2 linked regions of the Homo sapiens genome follow. The protein of the gene in region 2 purifies or fractionates together with the protein of the main gene of each other region. This does not show direct contact. Each region holds a gene or a part of one and is shown on either strand. Other genes may lie near its edges.

Evidence for each region. Proteins that work in one complex are often made in the same cells at the same time.
Region 1: the proteins of SLC38A1 (region 2) and DHCR24 purify together in Homo sapiens (affinity purification with mass spectrometry; one large-scale study listed by BioGRID and IntAct). This does not show direct contact.

The regions. Positions count from the first base shown.
Region 1 is NC_000001.11:54,849,196-54,852,695, reverse strand, and holds the end of DHCR24 (delta(24)-sterol reductase precursor), read left to right. Parts: intron 1-309; coding exon 310-463; 3' UTR 464-3,069; downstream 3,070-3,500. UniProt on the Homo sapiens protein: Catalyzes the reduction of the delta-24 double bond of sterol intermediates during cholesterol biosynthesis.
Region 2 is NC_000012.12:46,205,712-46,211,311, forward strand, and holds part of SLC38A1 (sodium-coupled neutral amino acid symporter 1), read right to left. Parts: intron 3,417-5,600; coding exon 3,343-3,416; intron 1,911-3,342; coding exon 1,818-1,910; intron 1,526-1,817; coding exon 1,444-1,525; intron 452-1,443; coding exon 369-451; intron 1-368. UniProt on the Homo sapiens protein: Symporter that cotransports short-chain neutral amino acids and sodium ions from the extraccellular to the intracellular side of the cell membrane. The transport is elctrogenic, pH dependent and driven by the Na(+) electrochemical gradient.

The DNA.
Region 1 (3,500 bases), on a different chromosome or scaffold from region 2:
CAACCCCACTGCTCCATTAGGGAAGGCAGCTGTGCCTCTGGCCAAGCAGAGGGGCAGAAGCCCAGCAGTCTGAGCTCTACTCCTGACTCTACCTCCACTGCTAAGCTACCTAACCCCCAAGCCCCAATTCCCTACCTGCAAAAGGGGGATAAGAATACCTGCACCATCTTCTTCACCAGGTTAACGGGGTTAAACAAGAGAAATCCTCCAAAAGCCTTTTCTGGGCTGCAGAATGAGCAGTTGGGTTTCTCTCACGCCTCGCGTTCCGTGTGCCTCCTGGCGTCCTCACCCACTTCTCTGCCTCTGCAGCTTCCAGATGCTGTATGCCGACTGCTACATGAACCGGGAGGAGTTCTGGGAGATGTTTGATGGCTCCTTGTACCACAAGCTGCGAGAGAAGCTGGGTTGCCAGGACGCCTTCCCCGAGGTGTACGACAAGATCTGCAAGGCCGCCAGGCACTGAGCTGGAGCCCGCCTGGAGAGACAGACACGTGTGAGTGGTCAGGCATCTTCCCTTCACTCAAGCTTGGCTGCTTTCCTAGATCCACACTTTCAAAGAGAAACCCCTCCAGAACTCCCACCCTGACAGCCCAACACCACCTTCCTCCTGGCTTCCAGGGGGCAGCCCAGTGGAATGGAAAGAATGTGGGATTTGGAGTCAGACAAGCCTGAGTCCAGTTCCCCGTTTAGAACTCATTAGCTGTGTGACTCTGGGTGAGTCCCTTAACCCCTCTGAGCCCGGGTCTCTTCATTAGTTGAAAGGGATAGTAATACCTACTTGCAGGTTGTTGTCATCTGAGTTGAGCACTGGTCACATTGAAGGTGCTGGGTAAGTGGTAGCTCTTGTTGCTTCCCGTTCAGCGTCACATCTGCAGTGGAGCCTGAAAAGGCTCCACATTAGGTCACCTGTGCACAGCCATGGCTGGAATGATGAAGGGGATACGCTGGAGTTGCCCTGCCATCGCCTCCATCAGCCAGACGAGGTCCTCACAGGAGAAGGACAGCTCTTCCCCACCCTGGGATCTCAGGAGGGCAGCCACGGAGTGGGGAGGCCCCAGATGCGCTGTGCCAAAGCCAGGTCCGAGGCCAAAGTTCTCCCTGCCATCCTTGGTGCCGTCCTGCCCCTTCCTCCTTCATGCCTGGGCCTGCAGGCCCACCCCAGCCACCACTGAGTCCACTCGGAGTGCCCTGTGTTCCTGGAGAAGGCATTCCAGGGTTGAATCTTGTCCCAGCCTCAGCCTGGGACACCTAGGTGGAGAGAGTGGTCTCCGCTCTGAATTGGATCCAGGGGACCTGGGCTCATTCTTCTTGGCTCACCAACCCTGCAGGCCTCATCTTTCCCAAAACCCACTTTGTCTTGGTGGGAGTGGGTCCGCGCTGCTCTGCAGCAGGGGCTGGGGAGTGGACAGCATCAGGTGGGAAAGTGGAGTCCACCCTCATGTTTCTGTAGGATTCTCACCGTGGGGCTGGAAGAAAAGAGCATCGACTTGATTTCTCCAACCACTCATCCCTCTTTTTCTTTCTTCCACCACTCCCCACCCCAGCTGTAGTTAATTTCAGTGCCTTACAAATCCTAAGCTCAGAGAAAGTTCCATTTCCGTTCCAGAGGGAAGGGAACCTCCCTAGGTCCTTCCCTGGCTTGTTATAACGCAAAGCTTGGTTGTTTATGCAACTCTATCTTAAGAACTGCCCAGCCTCAGCTGAAAACCCGAATCTGAGAAGGAATTGCGTCATGTAAGGGAAGCTGGAATTAAGGGAGCTGAGCCAGTCATGGTTGTGGCGTGTGAGTCAGGAGACCTAGGTTTCAGCCCCTCTCTACTGTCAGCGAGCTGTGCAACGTGGGCAAGTCATTGTCCTCTGAGCTGCAGTTTCCTCATCTGTCACATCGCTACAGACAAGACCTCCCTGGAACCCTTCTGATTGTCTTAGACACTGTGGTTGCAAAACCCACGGAAAGCCTCATTTGTGTGGAAAGTCAGAGGAAAAATGATCCAGTGGACACTTGGGGATTATCTGTCATTCAAGATCCTTCCTTCAACCCCAAGGTCAGCTCCCATCTCATTTCCAGAAAGGCTCATACCTGGCTTGCAGGGAAGCATCTGTCTTGTCATTCCAGGTGCCAGAATCCTCTCAGAGTCATTGAAGGGTGTTCACCCATCCCACCCAAGGCTTGGCACACTGCCAGTGTCTTAGCAGGGTCTTGTGAGGGCTGGGGGCATCCAGGCACTCAGAAGGCAAAGGAACCACCCTACCCATTTGGCCTCTGGAGGGGGCAGAAGAAAGAAATAAACCTCATCCTATATTTTACAAAGCATGTGAATTCTGGCATTAGCTCTCATAGGAGACCCATGTGCTTCCTTGCTCAGTGCAAAACTGATGATTCTACTTGCTGTAGATGAATGGTTAACACGAGCTAGTTAAACAGTGCCATTGTTTTGCCAGTGAAGCCTCCAACCCTAAGCCACTGGGACGGTGGCCAGAGATGCCAGCAGCCTCTGTCGCCCTTAGTCATATAACCAAAATCCAGACCTTATCCACAACCCGGGGCTTGGAAAGGAAGGTATTTTGGAATCACACCCTCCGGTTATGTTGCTCCAGTAAAATCTTGCCTGGAAAGAGGCAGTCTTCTTAGCATGGTGAGCTGAGTTCATGGCTTTTTTTTGTAGCCAGTCCTGTCCCTGGCCATCCATGTGATGGTTTTGGATGGAGTTAAACTTGATGCCAGTGGGCAGTGCATGTGGAAAGTATCAGAGTAAGGCTCTCCCCTCCAGAGCCCTGAGTTTCTTGGCTGCATGAAGGTTTTCTTTAGAATCAGAATTGTAGCCAGTTTCTTTGGCCAGAAGGATGAATACTTGGATATTACTGAAAGGGAGGGGTGGAGATGGGTGTGGCAGTGTATGGTGTGTGATTTTTATTTTCTTCTTTGGTCATGGGGGCCAAGGAGAAAGGCATGAATCTTCCCTGTCAGGCTCTTACAGCCACAGGCACTGTGTCTACTGTCTGGAAGACATGTCCCCATGGCTGTGGGGCCGCTGCTTCTGTTTAAATAAAAGTGGCCTGGAAGCTGGCGTTTGTCGTTTCTTGCTTGGGGGACCAAAATGTGGAGTCAGATCTGGGCTCGGGTGCAGGCTGTGCCATTCCCCAACTCAGTTGCTCTCACTGAACCCATGAGCCCATGGCCGAGGGCTAGAAGAACATGCAGGAACTGACAGGTTTATTTCTATCACTGTCAGAGTGTGATTGGAGTAAGTGTTGAAAGGATCCCTCTGTGTGCAGGGTGGCAAGCAGACCAGTGAGAAGGCCACCACTGCAGTCCAGGTGAGACGATGGTGGCTCTGGTTAGGGTGGAGGCCTGGCTTTGTCACTTGGTTGTGACCAATTAATTTTAGCAAGTTAATCCTGTTGAGACTGTTGTCCTCATCTACAAACTAGTGGACCCACTAGCTGTCCATTAAAATGCATTCCTCCATTCTTTGGACACATAGCTAGACTACCTTTCC
Region 2 (5,600 bases):
TAGATTTGAAAATGTATTTATCTAAATAATGAGGGTATTTAAGACTTCGTATGAAGAGAATTGCATTTTCTGGACTTTTCTTAGAGTAGCATATAAGTTGTACTACTGAAAATAGCCCTGTCTGTCCTGGCCCCAGGACCTCCCTTCTCCCCTCCACAGCTCAGTAGAGGGATTGTTTAGGAGGTCACATACTGACTGTTATTTTTATCCCATATTAAAGTTGGGACCGATTAATACTTGCAATTTATCATGTACTTAATCTTTGAGTGCATGCAGAGGGGAAGCAGAGGGCAACACTGTCCATTTTTATTCAGTTTCTGATTCACTTGGGCACTGCAGAATATGATAAAAGCAAAATCTGTCCTTACCTAAGTTCTTCAAGAGACACAGAGGGAGAATTATGCCAAAGGTAACTATCACCACCAGAACGCGGCCATCCACGTACCAGGCTCTGAAAGGCATTTAAGTGATTAGGTTATATTTTTTTAGAAAGTGACTTTTTTCCCCTCCAATGTAAAATTTCATGATATCATGATATATATTTTTATTAATTTTTACTATATGCATTAATTTTTAAAATCATTATTCAGGTCTTATCCAAACACTTTAACCCAGCCCCTACTTATATACTACAGCTTCACTCCCCTGTAATGGAAGAGGGAATATTGGTTTTTTTTTTTCCCATTGGCTAAATGTGGCATTCTTTTGAATTATTTACATGGTTTCAAAGCTGAATGCACACATTTCATTCTGTCAGATTACAACTTGTCCTATCAATTATTTAAAGAGAAAGCTCCTTTTTGTTTTGCTGGGCTAGTATCAGTGAGAAACAAGTCACTACAGGTAGACATTTCTCTCTCCCTGATCCCTTGGATTTGACCTTGAATCCTGAGAACACTAGAGACTCTGGCTTCTACGATTCTCCCTTGAAAGAAAACAGAGAAACTAAGACTGACAAGAACTGTTAAACAAGAGGGAGTCAAAACACAATTGTGCCAAATGTAGCTGCAACATTTTCCAGGGTTATCTACATCTTTAATGAGGTTGGCTCATGTAAATTTCGCCCCCAAAATGCTATGTCCCTTCTTTAAGTAAGAGGCTAGGGTCTTAATTTTTGTTGCACGTTCCACTTTTGTGTTAAAAATACTGCATATCTGTTCTATTTCACAGAAACTAGATATAGATTTCAGGCTCTGGGGAAAATGCAGTATCTACCGCTCATAGCATGACAGACAAATCTACTTTTCAAATGTGCATATGCAAATGGCTCTCCTGCTTTTTTCCTTTATATAGCCCCAAAGAAATTTATTGTTGAAACAACAAACAAACAAAACGCAGCCTAGGAAAAACTTTCTGCAATATTCACAAGCAAGAATTTTGATTGGCCCATATTTAAATTAAAAACATTTTAGTTATATCATAAAAAAATGGTCTATAACTTACGAAAATGTCTCTTCCTTTCCCATTAGAAACTTTATGGCAGAGGGTAGTTCATTTTTTACGATGAAGAGGTAGCTCAGCATTGCTGAAGGAAAATGAGAACATTTTTAGAAAGAAGATACGAAGGCTTATGTTGCAAGCTACATAAAAAGTTATCAGCCCGTTCTTAGACCAACTGTCAGTAAGACACAAAGGCAACTTCAGCTACTCTAGCAGGATTTGTGGCTTTAAATAAGTGACTGCTGTCTCTGCTTTACTTTCCCTGTGCCATTTTAGCAATGAGGATGATAACTGCTTGAATTATGTTAAAATTCATGTGGCCGCTCATCCACCAGAATTAGTTTCAAGTTATGTAAAGAAAAGCATGTTCTTTTTACCTCCAGTGTTCTGTAGAGAGGTGGCTCCAAAGATTACGAACTTCCCTGTGGTGCCAAAGACTTGTTCCCCCAGCTTTTCATACACCATGCAGCCTATTTAAAAATCAAATTTGAGAACACAAGAAATGACAGGGTTCAGAAAGTTAAAATAGTCAAGATTTTGTCATTCTATTGACTGTTCCCCAAGTTACTATGTGCCTTTCTCAAACTCACACAAATAGTCATTTTGGCCTTCAGGGGTTAAGGTATCCTCATTACAAAACAAATTCTTAACATTTTAAAATGTGAGATGCAACCATCATTTCTCCTTTTTCAAGTTGGCTACCAGAGCATTACAATTAACCTATTAGGTCATAAGGCTTATTTTTAACTACCTCTATCTTACAAAGGGGAAATTCCTTCTGTGATCTTTTTCTTCAGGTCTGGTGTACACCATTAAAATACATATTTGATTTAAAAAGATCCTAATAGTTGAAACAAAAAGATTCCTTTTGAATTAATGACCTGAACTGATTAGGCAAACAAGGAATTATCTTAATAACATCCCATCAATGCCTCCACGTTCTAAATGTAATAACAAGCTTAGAAACATTTTAATAGCCACGACATACAAAACCTAATTATTCATAAAATGTAGTTCAAATACATGCAACTCACAAAAGAGAGCAGAAGACTAATCTGTCAAAAGCATAATTTGTCTGTAGCAAAATTTGAAAGTGTTCGACTAGCTCATCTCAATAAATACTGAAACTCTAAAGCATTCACTTTTTAAAAAGTGTTTATATTTCTTTATAACTGTTCAGTTCATGTTTTCAAAAGGTTCACGGAGAGCAATATGGGACAGGCTATAATTAAACCTTTGTTTAATCTCTCATAAGACTGGTGTTTAAACTAGACAATGGTTAGCTCCTCAATTTATTATAAAATGTTCCAGTTAAATGGAGTCATGTATATACAATAATAGTTGACCAATGTGGTTTTAGTTAATGTAAAAGTCAAAGAATTACAAACATAATCCAGTGTCCCAGAAATAGAAAATAAACACTTCAGGTATTACACTGCCCAGAGTACTTGAAGTCTCTTCATAGCTTGCTCACTCCCACATTGCCTCAGGAGTAACACTTTCTCCTTGGAATATGCACAAGAGAATGACAGGTCTGTTTACTTTTAAAACCTTGGAAGTTATAATATAAAAACATGGGATCTTTGTTCTGGATTTATAAAGACCTAAGGAAAAACAAGCTTTTAAAATGAAGTCATTTTAAACCAGAAAAACAGGTATAATTGAGGGTTCACTTTAAGTGACAACATTATTTTCTCATTGTCCATGACAATTTAATTTATATTTTGCTGCAACTGTTTCTCTAGATAAATACTACTATAGGTCTTCCAATCACTCTAGGTCAAAATAGTCTTTCTTTTTAATAATCAAATTGCTGTACAGAGAGAACATCATTGTTCCACAATGCTACCATAAAAATAATTCACCCTGGTTTTAACAAAATCAAACACGTCCTCAGCTTACCTGTTTCTTTTGAACAGATCAATAGGAGGTTTATTGAATATATAGACAGCAATGTCACTGAAGTCAAAAGTACCCTAAAGCAAAGAAAATAAATCTTATTGTAATATCTAGAAAAGAATATATTCTGGCATTACAGTTTAGAAGGGCAAAGGTTTATTTGTATGGTTAACACTATTTGTTAATAGTATCCAAATTTTGGAACCTATTAGTCATCCCTGCTTTAAAATCCTCAACAAAAATGTCCTACCAAATAAAGAAGTGCTCATTAGAATCTGAGTAACAGTTCAAATCCTTTATGTAATTCGAAGCCCAAATAGCTCTCTGGGAGCATTTCGGTTGAGATGACTTTAAAACAACATTATGAAAGAAGGCTTTTGTAGTCTATGTTGCACTCTCTGTTACATCCGGGTGAGAAAGTGTGAGAATGGGGTGGGAGGGGCGGAGGGAAAGGCTGGCAGTGACCTTAGGAGAATGACCACCTGACTTTGGGCAACTTGCTTAACATTCCCATCTCTGGATTCCTTGCCCATAATATAAAGATACAAGCCAAATGATGTCTAGGGTTCTTTTCATCTATTACTTCATGGCTATTTTAAAATCTATATATTGGGCTACTAATGTAATTCACTTTTTTTGCACCTGGTTCCTCTTAGATGAATAAGCACCACTTGGTAACCAGTGGGAAAATTTGACAATCAAGTATAATGAAAAGACTTTTTTGAATGATGAACTCATGTTTTTGTTTTAGTACATCTGGGTCATTATCACACCCTTCTCAAGAAAAAGTGCAGTTAAAATGATGTGGGAGATTATATAGATGATTTCTGAAACATTTGGTTAAAACAGACATGATAATTGAAAATAAAGCCTATTTATTAAAAAAGAAGAAAAAAAATCCAGTCCCCAGATGAAACCGCTCACTTCCTGATGTGGGAAAATATATCCCTAGAACAATACATAACTGCAATTGACTCTATGTTTGAGTCATGAAAGGCAATTATTTTTCCACCAAGTGCTGTTGAGAGGCACTTGGCACATCATGCCGTTCGCTCTGCGTGGGCTGCTTCCTCCTGGCCCTTCCCCCTCCCAGCACACCTGTTGAAGGCTGCTCTAGGCCCCAGCTCAGATGCCAACTCCTCAGTTGCCTTCCCTGGCCCCAGGCAGAATGACTGCTCCTCAGCTGTCTATGATCCTACAGTGTTTTGTTTCTCCTGCATACGGGGCAACCATGAGGAGATAAACCAGGAGTACAGAATGGTCAACAGCAGAACAGATGAACTGCCAGAAACTGGCCAGCAAACAAAAGAGGGGCAGAGCTCAGCAGAGGCAAAACAAACACTAGGAGAAAGAACAGACCTAACACTTTGGGTAGAGGCCCAACTGATCTGCCAATAAACAGGAATTTAGGTTAAGATATGATTGGTAAGGAAGTACATTCAGATCTATACTTATTTCCCTAAAATCCTTGAGTGAGGAGGCTGATTGATATGGTTTGGCTGTGTCCCCACCGAAATCTCACCTTGAATTGTAACTCCCATAATTTCCACGTGTTTTGGGAGGGACCCGGTGGGAGATAATTGAATCATGGGGGCAGTTCTCTCATACTGTTCTTGTGGTAGTGAATAAGTCTCATAAGATCTGATGGTTTTTTTATAAGGGGAAACCCCTTTCACTTGTCTCTCAATTCTCTCTTGTCTGCGGGCAAGTAAAATGTGTTGTTCGCCTTCCGCCATAATTGTGAGGCCTCCCCAGCCACGTGGAACTGTGAGTCTGTTAAACCTCTTTTTCTTTATAAATTACCCAGTCTCAGGAATGTCTTTATCAGGAGCATGAAAATGGACTAATACACTGATTAAGAGGGTAGGTCTCTTATCTCTTCAGGTTGAGGGATGTGAGAAACGGACAGCAAGCATTTATTAGCCAACCCAGTAGTTCTGAGATACGTAATGGAACAGGATTTGATATGCTCTGCCACAGAATAAGATATGGGACCTAATTGTGGCATGATTTTTTTTCCCGTCAAGTAAGATAAGCAATATTTATGTCAAAGAAGCAAGCTTTCGGTTTCTTGCAGAGTTCACTTGTTTTGAGGGACACAATGCTAAGTAGCCACTTCTACACGAACATGTGACAGGCCCTAGAGGATTTCCGTGTGGCACAGAAGAGCACAGGCTTCCTAGTGGAGTAAAATGAGTGACATCTTAGGATGAGCCAGATGCTATTCTGGAATGACTATGTGCCCTGTTGGGTCTACTCTG